2 separate regions of the Homo sapiens genome follow, and region 2 is linked to region 1. The links come from fine-mapping of genetic effects on gene expression. Tissue or cell type: whole blood. Region 1 holds a variant in brackets; the other region holds the start of a gene. All regions are shown on one strand. Distances are from middle to middle.

Region 1 (10,801 bases):
CTCCCTCCACCCCTAGGGGCCTCTTGCTATCAAGGCTTTTCCTTTGCTAGTGTGCTGACTTTCCAGGGCTGTGTGACTCTGGTGCACACCACTGACTGTCTTTGACTCTCTCAAGAGAATCTGACTGGTGGCTGCTCAGCCAATGAACCGCTGGCCTGGGTAAGGTCTTATCAGCTGTGGCCTGCATTACAAGTTTGTGGGTGTGTGAATTAGTGGGGGGTTTGCATGGGGTGTTCCAGGAACTATGGGCAGGGCAAATTCTCTAGAAGAAGTAGTTTTTATTGTGGACAGGGTTCGTCCTGAAATTTAGCTAGTATGAGGATGGGTTAAAGGATAGATTAGAATTAGGGACCAGACAAGACACTGCTGAACTTTGATATTCACTCGGCACGTTCTACGTGTCTGACCTTGTGTGGGTGTCAGGAACGCGGGAACAAAGGAAGTGTGAGAGAAGAATAGCCCTGAGAAGTGGATGGGAGGTGGACAAGGCTGGACTTAGGCATTGAGTGGTTTGGTCTTGATCCAGGAGAGGCTGATCTCTTGGCACATCCTCCTAACTACCTCAGCCTTGCAAAAACCTACCCAACACCCAAGGCCCAATGCACGCGCTGCTTTCTCCCGGAAGCCTTTTCCAATCCTCTTTTGAACTCCATAGCAATTTGTACGTCCTTGTCTTAACTTGCTTTGCAAACATAGTTGATGTAGTTGTGGTTGCATATTTCATGCTACTGTAAGTTGCCTCTTTGTTTGATGCTTTCAGACTTCTGCTAGACTGTAAAGTCCATATCTGAGTCACTTTTGCAGGCAGCAGGGCTGTTGGAAGGGCTACATTCCTGAGTGTAAATCCCATTTTCACTGCTTACAAGCTGTGTGACTTTGGGCAAGTTACTTAGCCTCTCTGAGCCCCCACCTTCTTGTTTGTTAATGGGAGTGATAATACCCACCTCAAGGTGTTTTGTTTTGAAAATTAAACCATATCAAGGATATAAAGTACAGGACCAAGCACAGGGCAGTTGATTGGTGTGTATTGAATTGAGGAGGAATAACTCGGATCTTGAGGGATGAGCAGCATTAGCATAGTGGGCGAGATAAGGGAAAGGGAAGGGCATGCTCCAAGCTGTTCTCTTCAGTCCCTCCAGGGGAGGGGGCAGCGTGCGGGGCCACACTCTGGACAGGGCAGCTACTCCTCACATTGTCAGCAGAAGCCACTGCAGTTCTAGGACTCAGGCAGCCACACTCTTGTCCAGTGTAATGGAAACTGCCTTCTGAGCTGCATGCACCCTTACTTGATATCAATGTACCAGGGACTCGGATCTGTAACTAGAACAGCACTTACAGCTTGTCTCTCAGGGAAATGGTGTTGGATGGTCCTCAGGAATATTTCTTCCAGGTTTTCATGGAACCTAGAAAAACACCACAGCTTGCTAAGGTGTAAACCTCTCAGATGCCTGGGATGTTCTAGACTGAGCTGCAGCCAGTGCCTTTCTCCTGTTCAGGGCTGGATATGCACAGACGCCCTCACCAGGGCCTTCTAAACATAATTTGCTTCAACCCTTGCTTGTTGGCACAATTTTTTTCCCACCTCTCTCTATTTCAATAATGGCTGCTTCCTGACCATCTCTACTGCATAAGTAAGTAATCTGCCCTGGAAACTTGTCTTTCTGATTACTTTGCCCCCGCTGTGATTGCCTCCTTCTCCACATCATCCATTTCGCTCTCTCTTTTGGATCCTTCCCATTGGCACAGTGCCATGCTCTAGTGGCTCCAATTTTTAAAACACAAAAAAATCTTTCATTGATCCCACTATTCTCCTGCAGCAACTGCTTCATTTCTCTACGTCTTCTCTGCGGAACTTCTTAAAAGCCTTGTCTATAGCAACTTGTCTATAGCTCTATAGCTATAGCTCCTGCCTCCTCTCCTCACCCATGCCCTGTTCTCTCCCTCACCTGCTCTCCTCTGGGCTTCTGTCTTCTCCACTCCATGAGACTGCTCTTGACATCTTGCCATGACCTCGATTGTCTTCTCAGTGGCTAACTCCTCTGTTCTACTTGAGCCAGATTTTTTTCCTGGGGTTCTGTGATGCCGTACTGTCTAGGAGTTCCCCTCATCTTGATGGCCACTTCTTCTATCCACCCTCATTTCCAGGCTCTGGCTCCTCATGTGACCTCTAAAAGGTTGGCAGTCCCAGGAGATAGGCCTGAGTCCCACCCTCTTTTCTGCCTGTATGCACCTCCCTCCATTGCCCAAACCCCGGGGTCTTCTCACTTCCACCCCACAGCTTAAACACCATACATATAGTGATGGTGCACACATTTTGGTATTTCCATCCTGGCCTTTCCTCAGAGCTCCAAGCTCATACAAACAACTGTCTGGTTGATGTCTTCAGCCATGTGTCTCTCTAGATTTCTGCCCTATGCTGGCTCCTTCACTAGTCTCTGCCCCAATACATGGAACTTCTTACCCATTTACTCAGGATGAGAGCCTAGGAGTGATCATCCTTGATTCTCTCTTTTCCTTATTCCTATAATCATCACCCCTCTCCCACCCATCCAACTTTTTAGCAACTCCTGTTAACTCTACCTTGAAAACATAGCCCAAATATGCCCATTTCTGTTAATCTCTACCTTTGCTCACTCTGTCCAAGCCATAATTATCTTTCACTGGGTGAAATGCAATAGCTTCCAAAATGCTTCCATTCCTGCCCTTTATAATCATTGTTTTTGTTGTTTTGTTTTGTTTTAATTGAACAGCTACAGCTCTTTTTAAAAACCCGAATCCCATCATCCATGCTCCTTGAAACTTTCCAGTGGCCTCCCATTGTACCTGGAAAGAAAGCCAGACCCCTAGCTGGCCTCACAGGGCAAGGCTCTAGCTCCTTACCTGCCTCACCTCAAAGCATTTTCCCTGCTGGTTCTGCCTCAGGCCTCTGCACTTGCTGTTCCTTTCTTGCTGCAATGCTTCCCTCCAGGTGGTTTTTACATTCACTTGCATTCCTCAGCCTTCCCTGGTTATTCAATCTACAGTATTGGCAGGTGACATCACTTGTCTCAGCGGCTGTATGAGAAATACAAGAGAAAATGAGGCAGTGAGGTTGGACTGGGTCAGAGGTTCTCAACCCTGACTGTGTGCTGGTCCCTTCTGGGAAGCTTTAAAAAGCACACAGAAGCTCAGCCTTACTGCCAAGAATTCTAACTTAGGTCCTGGCATTCTTTAAAGTTCCCCACATGATTCCAAAGGACGTGTGGGGTGATAACCTTTGATCCAACCAGTGCTTCCCAAACTTGAACATGCATCCACATCACCTGCATACTGTGTTAAAATGCGGATTCTGGTCAGGAGGTCTGGGGTGGAGGCTGAGATGCTGCATTTCTGACAAGTTCCCAGGTGATGCTGATGCCGCTGGTGCACGGACCACACTTTAACTAGTGAGGGTCTGAACGATTTCTAGGTCTCCATCCCCTTCTAGCATGCCATGACAGTGGGGAAGGCAGTTCCAAAGCACAGGTGGTATGTTCTGTATTCACCAAGCATCCTGCACCCCTCCATCTTGTTCATCTTTATCTGTTACAAGTAAGCAATATTTCTGCTGATGGTCAAAATATGTGAAAGCCAAATAAGAATAATGATGGATCACGTGATATGGTGAAGGGGCATGGACTCCACGATGGGTTCATATTCCAATTCTGTTTCTTACCAGCTGTGTGAGTGTAGGCAAATTACTTAATCTCTCTGAGCCTTCATTTCCTCGACTCCAAAATGGGGATAATAAACACTGCTTATTTTATTGAGAGGATTAAATGGGTTAATACAGACAAAGCACTTTGCACACGATAGGTACCTAATGGATGGCAACTGCTGTGATCTTGGTGTACTTTGCAAATTGATCTAATCTTGTAATCCAATTGCTGCAGGTCACAGGAACCTTGATCTGTGCTTGCTGCAAGGATCATCAAACATAGAGCGGAGTCGGCCTTTGATCTGAATGTCAGGTGACTCCATGACATAAGAAATTTCAAGGCACAGAAACTTCAAACCAGCCTTAGTGACCTTGCCTGGAGGATGACAGGGGCAGAGAAACCCTTTGTTTCTTCCCTTCTCTGGATTGTTAGATTATCTCCCCATCTCTGTTCCCTGCCTACTTGCGTAATTTCCCCAGGGACTTTTGGTACAAAACCAGAAAACCTTAACTCTTAAAGTGTTGACTTCAATGCTGCTCTCACACTAGCCTGTTAGTAGTTATTTATTCATTCAGATATTAATTGGGTGCCTAGGTGCCAGGGACTTCATTGTCTCTATTACCCTGCAGGTTGTCAAGGGGAGGCAGGCGCTGAACAATAAAAAAAAATATGTAATCACAATTGTGGTGCCATGAAGGAAAAGAAATAGGGTGCACCGCAAGAGAATATTGAAGAGCTGTGATGCCAATGATTTTCATGTCAAAAGAGCCTCTGCCTATGTGTAGAATACATTGGAGCAGGCAGGAAGAAGGAGGACAAACAGTTAGGAGCCCCAACAGTGGTCCTGGCCCAGATGGTGGCAATGGAAATGGGGAATCAAGACTGGGAGCCACTTCCCTTAGTCATGGTAAAATGTTGGCTTGTACTTTAAGCTGTTTTGTAATTTTTTCCCTTTTACTCAATACAGAAGACACCATGTCATCATCACAGAAAATTCTAATCAGCAGTGTGGTTTGGGGCCAGTGTGTTTCCCTCTGTAGGTCTTACTTGTTTATTCTGTAAAATGGTAGTGGTGGTGGGTGTTGGTGTCAATGGGATCAAGGTTCTTTCTGCTTGTCATTTGAAGACTCCAAGACACATTAACGGTATTCACAAATAAGAGATTTTAAGCTTCAAATTAGAAGAAGGTTTAACAATATGGGGAATTAGATTTCTCCCTTTAAGCACTCTTGCCTCCCTTTCACAGGTCAGTGAAATTATAATCATACTTTCAAGCACAGCCTGCATGAATCAGGAAGGTTCAAGGCCACAGGCCTCTCAAGCCAGAGCCACAAA[G/A]CAAAACTGGTCTCTCTACCCAGGCACCACCCCTAGCTCTAAACCATGGGAATCTGAGAGGTAGCTGGAGCATGACTCACCTGCCAACACTGATAGACAGACACATGCTGGGCCACAGTGATACCAGAACCACCTCGTACAAAGGCTGGCAGGAATGATTTACATACCTCAACCTAACATTGAATAGCTTGATTGTCTCACAGAAATTAGTACTAAAGTAAAAACGTTTAGAAAATAAACCTTCAAATGTTGCAGATTAGGAAACTTAAGACCAGAGATGTCAACTGACCAAGTTAAGGTCACATTGCTGGCTATTTGGCAAGCCCCAAGAACCTGAATGAAGTTAGATACAAGGAGAATTTCTTCAGGAAAATTACTTTGGGTGGTATTGTAAAGGAGTTGCTTGATGCTGCTAAAAAAGACACTCAGCCATTAGTTTGGATGTGTCAGTTGAGGCCGAGGTTCTAGTTGGCAGAGTTCCAAGATAGTTGATGCTTCGGTGCCTCTTCTCCGAAGTATTTCCCATAATCCCCTGGACAGTTCCCTCTAAGAACTCCACTGTCTCAATCCTTTAAGTCTTCTGGATTCAGGGAAACCAAGACCAGTTCCTCCTTACAAGAACGCTGGGAACCCCTAATCTCAAGGTTGGTTGGTTTTTTGAAAAAAATTAAAAACGTAGAACAATGCAATTAATAATATACCATATACCCAGGTTCTAGGCACCCAGAATTAATGACTGTTAACATTTTCTCCCAAGGTATTTTGAGAACCCTTTTTTCTTTAGAATGACTCATGCGTCATAAGACACAGGCTTAATCTACCATCGTTTAATCGCCAGATTACCAAATTAGAATATTGAACTAGGACAGGAAAGATAAAATATTCTTATTTTATTTTTTAAAATATGGTACTTAAGTGGACCACGTGATGAGTTTTGACAAATGCCTATCATTACTTTTCTTTTTTTTTCTCACTTTTTTTAAAAGCAACAAGTCAAGGAATATACTCATCATGTTTTAAATTGCATTTGCAATTGGAACTGCATAAAAAGGCATTTTAATTTACATAATCTTTTTCTGCTGTTTTCACTTCCTGTTAAAACGGAATAACCTGGGGATTTTTATTTTCTGGTAGAAAATGCACAGTTTCAAGAAAGTCAAGAGTAAAGGTTAAGTTTACAGATTTCCAGTGACAGAGATGAAAGGGAACTACGTAACTCTGGAAAATAAAAGTTCAGAGTTGCGTTGCTTACAACTTTTTCATTTGTTAAGTTCTAGGAGCAAGTTTGAATGGGGAATCAAGAAGCCTGAATTATAGAACCAGTGCTGCCAGTAATGCACTGTGTGGCTGCTGGCCCATCACTTTACCTTTTTGGGCTAAAACTCTTTTTGTGCTTTTGGAATAACTTGTGTCCACTTTCTCCTTCTTTATGTCTTTTGTTTATAGGTTTGCGTTTTATGCACTGTTAACCAATCAGTCCTGATTCCTCTACCACACGTAGTAAGAGGGTAAGCCGTGGACATGAAGTGATGCTGCCAAGCTTGGCTAGTGTATGCACACTGCACCTTGCATGGGTGCCGTGAGGGCCCTGGAGGCCATATCTGGACTGGCTCTGGTCCTGAGGGTCAGAGTTCATCTGCTCCTGGATCCTAGTTTCACCTTCATAGGTTCCTCTGTATATGGACTTGAAATGTGACTTTCTTAGTGATAAGAGTTGTGGTTTTTATTCATTCACCACAGATGTTGTAAACCCCTACTTTTGTGTAGGGCACCGTTTTTCACTTTTACAGAAGAGGTTACTTTAGCAATTCTTTAAATGTCAGAGCCCTGTGCTGGCTAAAAACTCAACGCTGTATCTCACTTAAAAAACAAAATCAACTCCAAAGCCATCACCTCCATTTGGTAGTATGCTAATGAAATTGGGACACTGAGGGCTGGGTGTGGTGGCTCATGCCTTAATCCCAGCACTTTGGGAGGCCGAGGCAAGTGGATCACTTGAGGTCAGGAGTTCGAGACCAGTCTGGCCTCATCTCTACTAAAAATACAAAGATTAGCTGGGTGTGGTGGCATAGGCCTCTAGTCCCACTTACTTGGGAGGCTGAGGCAGGAGAATTGTTTGAACCTAGAGGCAGAGATTGCAGTGAGTGCCATTGCACTCCAGCCTCTGTCTCAAAAAAAAAAAAAAAAAAAAAGAAAGAAATTGGGACACTGAGGTAAGCAGCCTTCAATCCTTGCTGAGCATTTGGCCCTAATCCTCTAAATTCTTTTGAGAGTTTAGGGTTGGGACTGAGGGAGTGGGTCAGCTTGGATCAACGCCAGCACTCTGGATGTCAGCAGTGGCCAAGCGTCTTCCTTCTGACTCTGTAAAGCTGGAGCAATCCTCTTATTGCACAGGTACTGGCACTGTCAGATAGAAACGACAGCCCTGGGAGGAGACCTGCAGCACTGACAGTCAGTGGTTCAGACACATGAGCCCGGACCCCAGTGCTGTCATGGACCCGTGCCATGACCTTGGCCCAATGACTGTTTCCACAGTGGAAACAAACAGTGAAAGTTCCAACCCCAGATGTAGTGACGAAGGTTCATTGCACTTGCACACAGTAGATGCTCAATAAATACCCATTACTCAATTAGGGAAATGAAGCACAATATCCATTTTTGGAAAATATTTATTAAAAAACTAGTGAATGTGGCAGAAAAACAAAACCAACACACAGCTTTAAATAGCAAGCATATGACACACCGGTTATAAAGCTTTTCCAACTCTACTGATTTAGTCTTTCACACCAGCTACTGTTGAGGAGGGCTTCCGAGGGAAGCCACGTGTAAACGGGTCATCTGTACTAGTGGTGAGCAAAACTAATTACATGAGAACTATCAATGGCCATATGACTTGCTTTCCTAGGCAATCCACCCAAAACATAGGTGAGTGGCCAAATCTCAGGCGTGCGTTCATGTGGATCTATAGTTCTAGTTTTAATTTGAGGGTTGGGGGAAGTTAGGGGATGAAACAGTAGAAAGACAAACAGTATCGGCAGAGGGCAACCTTAAAGCACCTTTAAAATCTGGACCCTTTCCCACAATTTAACCCAGTAATTCTCAAACATTACTGTTGAAAAGAATCACCTGATGAGACTGTTAAATTGGCAGGCTCCCTAAATCTGCAATTTTAAGATAAGCACTCCGGGTGATTCAGTGTCTATTAGCCAGCCATCCAATTTCAGAAACACTGTTTAAAATGCATTAAAACAATTCCTACCTCCCACAAACAAAAGTAAAGGAATCTGCTGACAGTCACTGTGCTTTTGTCAATGTCAAGGGACCAATATGGGAAGGCAGGCAGGAAGGGGCCTCCCATTCCTAACACACTGATCTATAGAAGCCCTGTGCAACAGCCTGTCAAGTGTTGTTTAGGGAGTAAATACAATTCAATAAGAGTTGTTTTAGATCACAGAACAGCATCCAAATCACCAACAGGCCAACCCCATTCATCCCAGGTTAATGAACTTTGTTGGGTCGAAGCCAGATGGGACACTGCTGTTCAAACAAAACACGGGTAATTGTGGGTCCTGACTTGTGAAGACATATGGAATAAAACATCTATAAAAACCTTTATTAAACATAGAGCACTATGCCCAAATAATTTTGAAGGTTTACGAAAGTCACATCATGGACAACATGTAGAAATAGTAACATTGATTCCAAGGTTCCCATTATCTGCAAAAAGATGTGCTATGGCTGTGTCGAAAACAAGGCAGTCGCTGTTCATGATGGCCGCAGCCACACCGTCATGAATCGAACGGGGCGTGGCCTCCCAGGTCAATCTCCGCCGGTTCCCATTCAACTCCAGTCTGTAGGCAAAGTTCTCGGCTTGCTTGCGGGTGCCAATGAGCAGGACGATGGCAAAAAACTGCTGGTGGCCTTCGTACTTCTCTTGTTTCTCCAGCACCAGCATGAAGTGATGGCCAAAACATGACTGCATCATCACCCAGTCGACAGCCCCTGGCAAGTTAATGTCTGTAGCTAGAAAGACGATGTCTTCTCCCTGAAGGGTGGTAATGCTCTTGTGGGCGTGCATGAGATGGGACATCACAGCTTCCAGGGACCCCTGCCACTTGCAGGAAGCACCAGGACATGGGCAGGAGTAGGGACGGTATTCACATATGTCTTCATGTTCTGGTTTCTCCGTATGGTGCAGGGTCAGGGAACAGCCCGTGGTGGCATACTGCAAAGAAAGAAATGCATTGAGCCATTGGGCCTTCTCAAAACTTCTATTGCTTCAACCCTCTATGAGTACTTAACTACTCCATTTTCCTGGGCTTAAACTGTGTTCTTAACTACTTTTGCTCAAAGCAAGTGAAATATTCAAGACTAAAAGTCTCCGTCTCTATTCATCATCAATGCTGTCATGCATAAAATGAAGGGTATTTCCTGAACCAGAAATACGCTGTTTTCCATGCCCCCTGTTCCGCTGTCAAAGGGATCAGAACTAAAGTTCTCTTACTGTGCACATCTCAAAATTGTTGAGCAAGCCCTATAAAAGCTGGTCTTCCCCATATTTTCTGTGAAGCTGTTTTTTAAAGAATTCAATTGCTTGGGTGGTGGGGATGGGGTTGGGCAAGGAATATTATATTATCCCAAGATTAGTTTTCACATATAGACAATATTAACAACAGTATAATTCTGTCGTCCCCCTCCACTGCTTTCTGGCTCAAACTGGTGACTGGCAGGCAGGCCGTGGGGAAGGCTGCCCTTTGGTTCCTTGCTCTTTGCTGCTGGCATCACCAGGCTAGGGCAGCGGAGGCCTGGAGACCCCTTCATACAGCTAGAAATATTACCCCACTGCATCCTTTTGACCTTCCCTCTGGGGGGCTTTGCCCATATTTTTTGGGTGGAAGGAAATCACATCCAAGAGCTACTTAACTAACTCAGAAGACTACTGGTCAGTCTGGTTCTGGCCAGTAGAGGTTAACATGAGAAGGGCCTAACCCTCCTCTCAAAGCTTGCTGACCCCCAACACTTCCTCAGATTCAAGAGCACATCATTTCATGGTCAGGTATGTCAGGTCCTCACAACAGGCCCGGGAGGAAGCAGAACTAGACAAGTTTGCTGACATGATCAGTCTGCCCCTCAGACACTGCCTTAATAGGGTAGGAGAACAAAATCATTTTCTCCCTTGCACTTGGGATGACATTCCTAATGGATAAATCATACCTGCCGTGGCAAAAGACCACACCAAGAGGAACTGAACTTCTACTCCAGACTCTCACAAGGATGACAGTGTTAATTCCTAGATACCAGATGGAGATCAGCCCACAAGTAGACACCTGCCCTGAGTACTAAGCTGTTCTGTAAAGAATTAAGAAACCTGAATCACCTTTTCAGGTGAAACTAGGTGTCAGCCTTAGACCCCTGGAGCACAGAATGGCAGGGGAACTGTCTGGCTAACTACACTTGGATTCCCCTGCTCCACTGAGACATGAAGGCACCAAATAAGGGCAAGGCCAGGTCATTTTTCTAAGATGCTATGTCCAGTTGCTAAAAAAAAAAAAAAGCACCACTGCTGTTTTTGCTTCTCTCTACCCTGCTTTATAGAATAATCCCCCTTTTAAACTTGAAGTCGGTCAAATTCTAACCTTCATAGATGAATTTATCACTAGCAACAAGCAGATGGTATGCACTATGTGACTTCTCCATACAAGACGCTAAGTTACAGTCACTCAGAGGATTCCGAAGCAAGGATGACAGCCTCCACTCTCAGGGGGATTAGTCTCCCCTAATCGGAAAGG
Region 2 (9,719 bases), 23 kb after region 1:
TCAGGCAGTAGTGAGGACTTCAGGGACAACTTCCAAAGTAAATAGTTTTGTGTTAGGAGAATTCTGGGGGTTAGGAAGAAATTTTTGAAAGTATTTTTGGCTAATCGGCTTGTGCTTCCTGCTTCCAGGTGATCCCCCATTGCAACCTTCCAACCACCCCAATACCCCCCATATTCCATTCCATATGGTGAAGCAAAAGCCCTCAACAGCACTTCTAATCTGATTTCCAAGCACCCACTAACTAGGCGTCATCTCCGTTCTTTCTAATGGATGAACAAACAGGGTCAGGGAAGTATGTGACTGGACCAAAGTCACACAAAGCCAGGACGAGAACCCAGGTCTTCTGTTTCCTGGCTCACGTTCTTTTCACTGGGACCGCTTACTATATTTTAAAATTTTAGGGTAAGAAAGAACCTTGGGATAATCATTTAGTCCAATCCCTTCTCTTAAAGACCCTCAGGTGCAAAAAAGAAACTGACCTGTATAGAGTCAAACATCTAGTCACAAGGCCATCATCTGAGGGTTCCTGATGGCCAGAAAATAATATTCTCTTGGCAAAATGAAGATGAAAAGAAAACAAGCTACAAAATCACCAACAGTTAGGGCCTAACAGAGTTCCAAAGTTCATGTATGGCAAGAGTTAAATGAGAACTTCCAGGCTCAAGGAATGCTTCTACAAGAGAATCAGATCAGAGGCTGCATGCTGGCAGCTGGAATTTGGCCTGGAGACGTGGTGGTTCGCTTTGTCTGCAAGTGGTGGTTATACATGTGAAGTCAGCCAATGCTAGAAAAAAAATCGAGATATTTAACATAAAAAAAAAATCCAGGCTGGGCACGGTGGCTCACACTTGTAATCCCAGCACTTTGGGGGGCCGAGATAGGAGGATTGCTTGAGCTCAGGAGTATCAAGACCAGCCTGGGCAACATAGTGAGATGACATCTCTTAAAGGAAAAAAAAAAGATCCAGATTTCTGGCTTTTCTTGAAAAAAATCTAAAGGTCTGATATGCCTGTACCCACATCCCCAACCCCACCAATCAGCCAGAGGTGAGTAAAGGCTGCCTCTTGGGAGGTGGCACCTGTTCTCTGGCTCTCCACCATCTCCACTGCTCCTCCAGGTCTCCCTGACCCTGAGGCCATGAGTGCATCAAATACTTCTCTCCTCTCCTCTCCTCTCATTACATGGCCCTCCTCCCATTTAGAAAGTTTGTCTCCACTGAACTAGATGAGGCCAAGGGATTTTAAACTTTCAACTGTTTTGTCTAACCTTACTTGGTTTTATGTTATTTTTTATTTTTTTAAGGAACACAGACATTGTCACAATTCAACCACAGAGAAGACTTGTCCAGCTGAGGCTTTCAAATTCAATAATTATTTGGAGATATGCTACTAGAAACTTTCAGAGAGGACAAAGAAAAGGTATCATTACAGTGTAAGAAGGCTGGAGTGGATTAGCATTGCTCACAGTTGTAGAGAGAAATACTTGGCTGATATCAAAATACATCGTTGGATGGTAAAGTAGACTATGTTGTTGATATGAATGTGTCAACCTTCACTTCTCCCCCTAAACCCACACACTGAAGGGGTGAGTTTAAGTCTGGGCACAGGATGTCAAAAGTTCTCAGGCATGGAACAAGCCACAGAATGGATTAAAAAATACCCCAAGCGGAAGAAAGCCATACACTATTAGACATTCCATTTTTTTTTTTTTTTTTTTGACACAGAGTCTTGCTCTGTCACCCAGGCTGGAGTGCAGTGGCACAATCTCAGCTCACTGCAACCTCCACCTCCTGGGTTCAAGCGATTCTCCTGCCGCAGCCTCCTGAGTAGCTGGGATTACAGGTGCCTGCCACCACACCTGGCTATTTTTTTTTTTTTTTTTTTTAATGAGACTGAGTTTCACTCTTGTTGCCCAGGCTGGAATGCAATGACGTGATCTTGGCTCACTGCAACCTCTGCCTCCCGGGTTCAAGCAATTCTCCTGCCTCAGTCTCCTGAGTAGCTGATATTACAGGCATGTGCCACCATGCCCAGCTAACTTTTTTGTATTTTTAGTAGAAACGGGGTTTCTCCATGTTGGTCAGGCTGGTCTCAAACTCCTGACCTCAGGTGATCCACCCACCTCAGCCTCCCAAAGTGCTGGGATTACAGACGTGAGCCACTGCGCCTGGCCCTAATTTTTGTATTTTTAGTAGAGACAGGGTTTCACTATGTTGTCCAGGCTGGTCTCGAACTCCTGACCTCAGGTGATCTGCTCACCTCTGCCTCCCAAAGTGCTGGGATTACAGGCATGAGTCACCACACCCAAAGATCTGAGCTAATAATGCATCCGGTTCCCCATATCAAAGGTGCTGGCAACACTCTAGCCTTTAATTAATTACCCTAAACCTAAGTGGGATAGTTATTTGGCAATACATCCATTTTTTTGCCAACTGAAGCAGTCCAGAGCTGTGATGATACCCCACAAAATACTAGGTTTGTAGGTTTCCCCCACCCTCCCATCTTCCTACCCTACATGCCCTACAAAATTCCTGCCAATGAATTTCATAGTGAGTATGTATGTTGTCATTTTGGGATGGTCCCATAAGAGGCCCATCTGGTGAACTCATCCAACCAGACGGTTTTGTTACTGGTGTCAACCTTGAGTTATGATTCAGAATCTTGAGTATACACTCAGATTCGAAATCCCTACGTAGTAAGGTGTAGGACAAAACATCTGTGCCTTTGAGATGCAGGTGCTTGGACTGGTCCTCTTACTAGCTGTGTGATTTGACAAGTCACTTCACATTTAACCACTCTGTAGGCATGAGTTTCCTCATCTGAAAAAAAAAAAAGGCAAACTAGTAAAAGCTGACCCCTGCAAAGTAACTGGCAGATAGAGGGCATCCAATAACATTCCAGATAGCCTCCCTTCTTTTCATAGAATGCTAGAAGCTACAGGTCCTTAGAAGTCAAGCAGATTCATCTCTCATTTGTATAGATGAGGAAATCAAGGCCCTGGGAGGTGGTCTTTCAGGCAAACAGTGGCAGCTCTTGAGATGTGGGCTCTGGTACTTTATTCAACGTTGGTTTTTTTCACATGAGCCAGCCCATGAGAGATTCTGAGAGCAGGTGGGGACAGTAAAAAGGCAGTCCCATAATTTCTAGGAGCCTCAAACTGTAGGCCAAAGGGCTAGGTAAACAGATCTGCCTTGTTTTAAGTTTGATACAGGCCTTACGGCTCTCTGTTGTTTCTCATCCTCTACAACTAACACATCTTGGTTGGTCGCTGGGCCTATGTATACATTCAAGTTTGGTTTATCCAGACTAACTGGCTGAGCTGCCCTGCCAATAGTTTGGATTATTGATCAACCAAAGGTGAGGGACACACACCCCAGCTTTATACAACTCACACACATGCACACACAAAAGCATCCCCAAGATCACATCCTAAGCTTGGTTCTTGGTCTGCAGGGGAATAATTGGCCCTTTTAAATTTCAGCTTGCAAAGTAATAGCTTTACCCCACTGCATTCTTATAGAATAGAGACTCAGAAAACCACTGACATGTACAGAAAGGCTGAGAACCCCTGATTCCCAGAACTACTCTTCAAGGTTGATTTCAGTAGCCTGTTTCACGTTAGGAAAGAACGTATGCTTTCATAGGAACCAGAGTTCTAGATCCTGAAAGTGAAACTTCATGCTCCATATAGCATAACTGTTTCCTTCCCTTTCTCTTGGGAACAACACAATTCTATTATGGTTACATTTTAAAAACAAATTATGGATTACTGACTAATATCAAATGCTCATTTGTGAACTAAAACTCACCTAAAAGCCATTTCTTTTGTTAGCCGCTGCGCGTTTAAGGGAAAGTAAAGGGGTGAGAAAATGGCTCCCCAGAAATCCTATGGGGCATCCCCCACCCCTGCAATATATCTCAAGCATCAAATAGCCACTCTATGTTAACTACCACCAAACCTTTTCCAACCACTAGGTTGTCACCTTTTTCACAACCCTAAGACAACTATGCAAATACTTTATCTAAATTTTGAGAAACTGGGCTGAGTGAATTAGTAAGCACTATATGAGGAGGGGTTAACAGCAATTTATTAAGGTTGCCTGAAACACCCTAGTCCAAACACCGATTCAAACTCTTATTTAAATATGCTATTTTAAACCTGATTTGCAGCAGGGCAGCAGACCAAATTAAAGCACTCATTTTACTGACCTGAGTCCCAAGCCTGAATTCTCTGGTGGATTATTTTTAATTTAAAAATGAGCTCTTGTCCTATAAAATAAGCAGCACCAAGGAGAAATGCAAGACAGCTTAAATGGCCCAAGAGGCAGCGCAAGTTACTTTTACAAAAAAACTGGAAAGTATTAGTGACATTATCTCCACTTCTAATTTCAGAAAATGACTTTACAGTATACTTCTAGGTTATAACGTAGACAAGTATGTCTGTGAAACTGCTCCTGAAGGTTTCCACGTAATAGCTGCAGGTAAACAAATGTTATAATATGACCACACAATGCAATACTATGCAGCCATTTAAAATACAATGAAGTCGACTAGGTTTCAGGCATAGAGAAATATGTGTGATAATATGAATTTAAGAACAGCAAGTTGCAGATGCCATTTTTGGAGAAAAACTTACATCTATGTGTGGGTATTAAAAAACCTCCCTGACATACACTGACATCTATGATTCTATATTTAGCTGCGAGGGTGTATGTATATATAGTTTAAAAAGATACACACTAAACCTAACAATGGTGGGAAAGGAGGGGAGAGATCTTGGTCTTTCATTTTACTTCTTGTCTTGGTGGCTTGCATTTTTCGCAAGGGCATTGAAAACTTTTTACATTAAATAAAAAATGAAGTGATGAGCTTTAAACAACTGTAACAACAGCTCTTGAGTGCCCTTGTTAATTTCTTGATTGACTGTTTTCACCCCACTTAGTACAACAACGCAGCCACAACTCCTCAGTCCTTCCCAGTCTTTGGAAGGCTAGGAGAGAAAAAGGCGTGGCTTGCAGGGTTTTCTTCTAGCTAGAGGAAAACAGGCTGTAGGCGCCCTTTTTTTAGCTACAATCCCGAGAGCTCCCACGTGTCAGGGGTGCGCAGACGGTAGGCGCGGGGTGCAGGACTCCAATTATCAATTCAGCCGAGCCCAGCGCTGGTAAAGGGGGCGTTTAGCTCGCCCGTTTCCTCCCTCCTCAATCCCCACACAGTCAGTTTCTCGGTCCAAGTTTTACTGGTGCGGCCCAGCCCTACCGAGAGTACCCGAATACACGTCTGCAGAGGACGCGGGCATTGGGCCGGGTGAGCTACGATGTTCTAACGATCAGCAAATGCCAATTAATCTGTTAATTGTCTATTAACAATTATTACTCGGTAAATGTCAACCCAGACCTACACCCAAAGTGGGCTTGAGGGAGGGTGGACGAAGTGTAAACATTTTTTCTTTTTTTTTTTTAAATGAGAGATGCCGCCCGCCTCTCCGGGCCTGCGAGTGGGCTGGCGGATACCGGAGTCCCTGAGGTCACCGGCGGAGGTACGTGGGCTGTCCCTGGGCTTACCTTACAGGGAAACAGGACTGCCGAGGCCACCTTCTCCATAGCCAGGTTCCTGATGCTGGGCGTCAGGGCGCCCCTGCACGTCGGGCAGCAGCTCAACTTCTGGCGGCATTGGTTACACACCAGGTGCCCGGCCTGGCACTGCAGAATAGGAGGCAGGACATAGTCAAAGCAGACCGGACACTCGAAGAGCGAGGTCAGCTCGTGGTGCTGCGGGGACACCGGGCCGGCCCCGCCGCCGCCGCCGGGGCCCGAGATCACCGCCGCCGCGGCGGGCACCGCGGACGAGCCGGGGCCCGCAGCCGAGATGGTGGCGGCGGCCGGGGGCGCAGCCGGGGACGGAGTGTGCTGGGGCTGCGGCGGCGGCTGCTTGCTGCAGGGTTTATTAGCGCTGGGGCCGGTGGAGGACGGGCGGCTCATCGCGCTCCGAACCAACCATGGAACTGCGGGCGCCTGCCTGCCGCGGGGCCGCCCGGGTCAAGGCGGTGCGCGCCCCGCGGGCAGCGAGCTCCGAGGCAACGCCACGGCGCCCAGCCCAGGTCCGGGCGGCGGAGACGCTCGGCGCCCGGCAGGCGGAGGGCTGGACCGCGCTGATGCACTCCGCAGCCCCCGGCGTTCCGAGCACGCCTCCGCGTCGGACCCCGCGCGGTGCCCTCCTCCCGGCGGCGTCCCGGGCCCCGAACCCCAGCGGTGCGCAGAGCCCTGGCCCACCCGCTTCTGGAACAGCCGCTGACGCAAGCCCCGGGGGCGCGCGCGGACGTGACGCCTGGACACGTGTGCGGCCGCCCAGGCGCGCGGGGACTGGCAGAGCCACCCTGCGCCGGGGCGCTGGCTCCGCCCGGCTCCAGCTGGCAGCGCAGGGGGCCGCCTAGCGCCGGCGCTTCCTGCTCGGGCTGCGGGCCGGGCCTGCGCCAGTGAGCATGCCTGGCTCGCTGCAGCCCCGCGGGGTTGTCTTTTCTGGGTTGAGGAGGGGGGCTACTCTCGGGGAAGCGTCGCCGAAGTCCTCTGGCCACACCCCGGGGTGCCTGGCTGACGCGTCCCTCAGCTCAAACGAGAAAGGCAACTTCAGGCGGGGCGGGAGCGTGGACGGTGGGTGGGACCGGACGCGGGCGGGCAGGGGCGGGGCGCGGGCGCCCCTGCACTAGTCGGAAAAAACCGAGAGGTTTCTCTTCTCAGGGCTGAGTCACCAGCACGCAGGAGAAGAGGGCGAAGCGGCCACCCGCGTTCTGTGTTCGGAGTCAGGACGAGAAGCATTGGGTGGGAGCAGGGCGAGGGGCTCGAGTTGGGTCTGCAGCGGGCACAGGACCTAGTTTTGTACAGTTAACGGTGGGGTTGAGTAAAGAGGGGGGCGGTGGGGAGGATGTAAGCTCCCTTTATTCCTTTCCCAGCGGACCAGGAGGAAGCTTCGTTGAATTGAGCGCCCCTGGCTCGTATAGCAGGCCGAGGAGGGAGCTCATGGGCAGCGTTGGCTAAGAGTTCGAGATCATCTAGAAATGTCAGAAACGTAGGTTGGGTCGTGAGGTCTCTGAAGACAGTGGGTGAAACTCCAGTGTAAGGCGCTGCGTCCGCTTGGTAGAGAGCCGGCCGAAGTCCGAGTCTTTGTTGCGAGGCGTAGGGCCACCCTGCGCGCCCAGCAGAAGCGCTAGAGGGCACGGTTGCCCGGGGTGAACCGCATGTCCAAATGTAACTGTGTGCTCCGAGTTAAAATTGTTTTTCTGCAGACTTTGCTTGAGCCAACGATTCCGGAATTGGGGAAAGGGTTACCTTAGGTAGAAATCGGAAATTTATAGGAGACACAGAGGTAAGGACCAACTGTTAGGACTGAGTGAAAAATGGTTCCCTCCAACTGTAAAAGTGGAAAAAAAAATACCTATCTTATAGGTGGGGCAGTGAGGAGTAAATGAGTTTAATATATTTCAAGCTTTTAAAACAACCTCGCCCATCATAAGCACTGTTTAAACATTAGCTCTTATCTTTTAAAAATATTAGTGGATGTTTAAAATGAATGAATACAATTTGTCCAAGAAATATGGCGTAAGAGCCCAGAAGAAATAAAGTTTAATCTTACAAAGGGCTTCTGTAGAAAGAATACATGCATGGAATTGATGGAATTTGGTATAAATCTTGAAAAAACTTAATAGGTGTATTCAATCGTTCAGTAAATGTTTCCTGAGCATTTATCATGTGTCAGCTACTGTTGGAGCTCTGAGAATGGTTCTCATGCAGTTTACATTCTAGTAAGAGAGCAAGGCCCAATAACCAAGCACTCGTGGGAGAAGAAGGATTTCAGATACCACGGGGTGGGCAGGCATTATAGCAGGAGCTAAAAAGCACAGAGTGAAAGCATGTATTCTGGGATTGCATTGGGACTTGGAGGGGATATAACGGGAGTGTAGGGGTGTGGCGTTAGCACAAGGGGAGCCTCAACTGGCTTAATAAGACATTTACCTCAATGATAGGGGTAAACCACTGTAGGGTTTTGTTTGTTTTTTTAAGAACACACAACAACACTAGGTTTTGTAGGTTTTTGGAAGCTCTTTAGTAACATGGCTGAACCTGAGTTTTTGGATAGGTAGGGAGCATAAAATAATAACTAATGTTAATTGAGTGCCCACTGTATGTTGGGCATGGATAGTTTTAAGTATTTATCATAACTCTCTGTGATGAATACTACTGTTATCTCCATTTTACAGTTGAGGAAACCGAGACATAGGTTACTTTGCTCAAGATCACACAGCTGAGAATGTGGGAACACGCTAGGAGCCCTTCTTAACTACTAGTCTGTATGCCTCTAAATTATGCCTGATTCCTACTTACAGTCTTGTTAAACAGTTAAGATTAGCACACTCAACAGAGTCAGAAAACAGTTGTTCAGCCTATAATAAAGCACTAAATTTTGTGGGCAAACTTTACATAAACTCTTTCCTTAGCTGGTCTAGAGAGAAAAATTAAATCATGTTCTATTTATTTCATTTTCACCTTTTTATGACACAAAATATAAGTGATAACACAAAAATCACCTACTGTTTTACTGTTATTGGAGGAAATGTAATATTTTTCATTCTTAATTTAAAATCAAAGCATTTGGAATTTATTAATGGAACACATTTTCTTTCCTTCCACTTCTAGCCTCTCTGTGTGATGACCTCCATCCCCACGGCTTCTTACTAGCTCTCATTAGGAGACTGGAGTCCTCACCCTTGCCCCATTGACACGAGCTTTAAGTGTTCCAGCTAGATAGGCCCTGGTCATTCAGAAAACAATTTGGTTTGGGAGGTGTTGAAAGAAATAACAGGAAAAGCAATTCTCTGCAGAGAGAATTTGGTTTATTTTTCTAAAAATACAGCGAACCCATCCACTCTTACCCTGGCAGATGCCTCCCCTGGTATAGAGAAATTTCTTCTTTCTTCCTCCTTCACATCATTGCACACCTGATTAAGTCAACCAGGGTAATTAAAATACAAAAGCAAAACAAAAAAACTCTGGGCAGTTGCTGAAGGTAGGCAGGGGGAGAGTGGATAGGTCTGCTATGTGAGCCACATCAATGACCAGGCTGGTCTTCCCAGTCGCCTTTCTTCTTCCTCCTTCCTTGGTGACTTTTGAAACAAAGAAAGGTGACCTTTGCATACCGGGCACTATGAGCTAGAGCCTCCTCTTCCAGCGGGCAGTCCGCTCAGAGGTCGAATTTAGCGTGTACTCAAAATGTGTGCTGAGTTGAGTTGTTGGGAGGTTTATTTACCCTTTGGAGTGTCGCTGCTGCTTCTTGGCCTGTTTAGTGAGTGACTTTGTGGTCTGGGGGAGCAGGGTCCAGCCTTTTGTTATCTCCTGATTCATGACTCATTTACCACATCTACTGTATGAGAGGTTGGTCTCATTCGCCCACCTACTGAGTCCCAGATTGCATATGTCAAGCAGGACACCTCTCCTTAACCCATCTGCTCTATGCTAAGCTTGAAAGACTAGGGGTGTACTGAGTAGCCTTTTCTTTCCTTAAAATAGCAGGGTGAGTCTTAAAAAAAACACCTCACAGGTGAGTTCCTAATTTCACTAAACTGCTGAGCACAGTGAGAAATGCTCCAGCTAGGCAGACAAGCTCTTGCCCTTTTTTCTGTAACTTACAAATTGTGTGGTTTTGCAAATCAGGCAACTTCTGCCATCAGGC

The links. PIP is the estimated chance that this variant, and not a neighbour inherited with it, causes the effect.
Region 2: it holds the start of SIAH2, and the variant in region 1 is fine-mapped to the expression of SIAH2 in whole blood (TOPMed, PIP above 0.99).

The regions. Positions count from the first base shown.
Region 1 is chr3:150,733,462-150,744,262 of GRCh38, forward strand. LOC101928105 (a long non-coding RNA gene) reads right to left here and starts at 5,524. Exons shown (of 3, transcript NR_121657.1): 1 at 5,390-5,524; 2 at 2,881-3,054; 3 at 1,010-1,403. SIAH2 (siah E3 ubiquitin protein ligase 2) reads right to left here. Exons shown (of 2, transcript NM_005067.7): 2 at 7,664-9,237. The coding sequence ends at 8,680. RefSeq lists a cis regulatory region at 1-536 and a silencer at 7,406-7,485. The variant G/A (reference allele first, on the strand shown) is at 5,013.
Region 2 is chr3:150,756,873-150,766,591 of GRCh38, forward strand. SIAH2 (siah E3 ubiquitin protein ligase 2) reads right to left here and starts at 6,297. Exons shown (of 2, transcript NM_005067.7): 1 at 5,561-6,297. The coding sequence starts at 5,977. It overlaps SIAH2-AS1 (SIAH2 and CLRN1 antisense RNA 1), which reads left to right and starts at 5,065. Exons shown (of 3, transcript NR_187306.1): 1 at 5,065-5,108; 2 at 5,467-5,535. RefSeq lists enhancers at 2,558-2,617, 3,852-3,951, 5,768-6,714, 7,233-7,292 and a silencer at 5,823-6,722.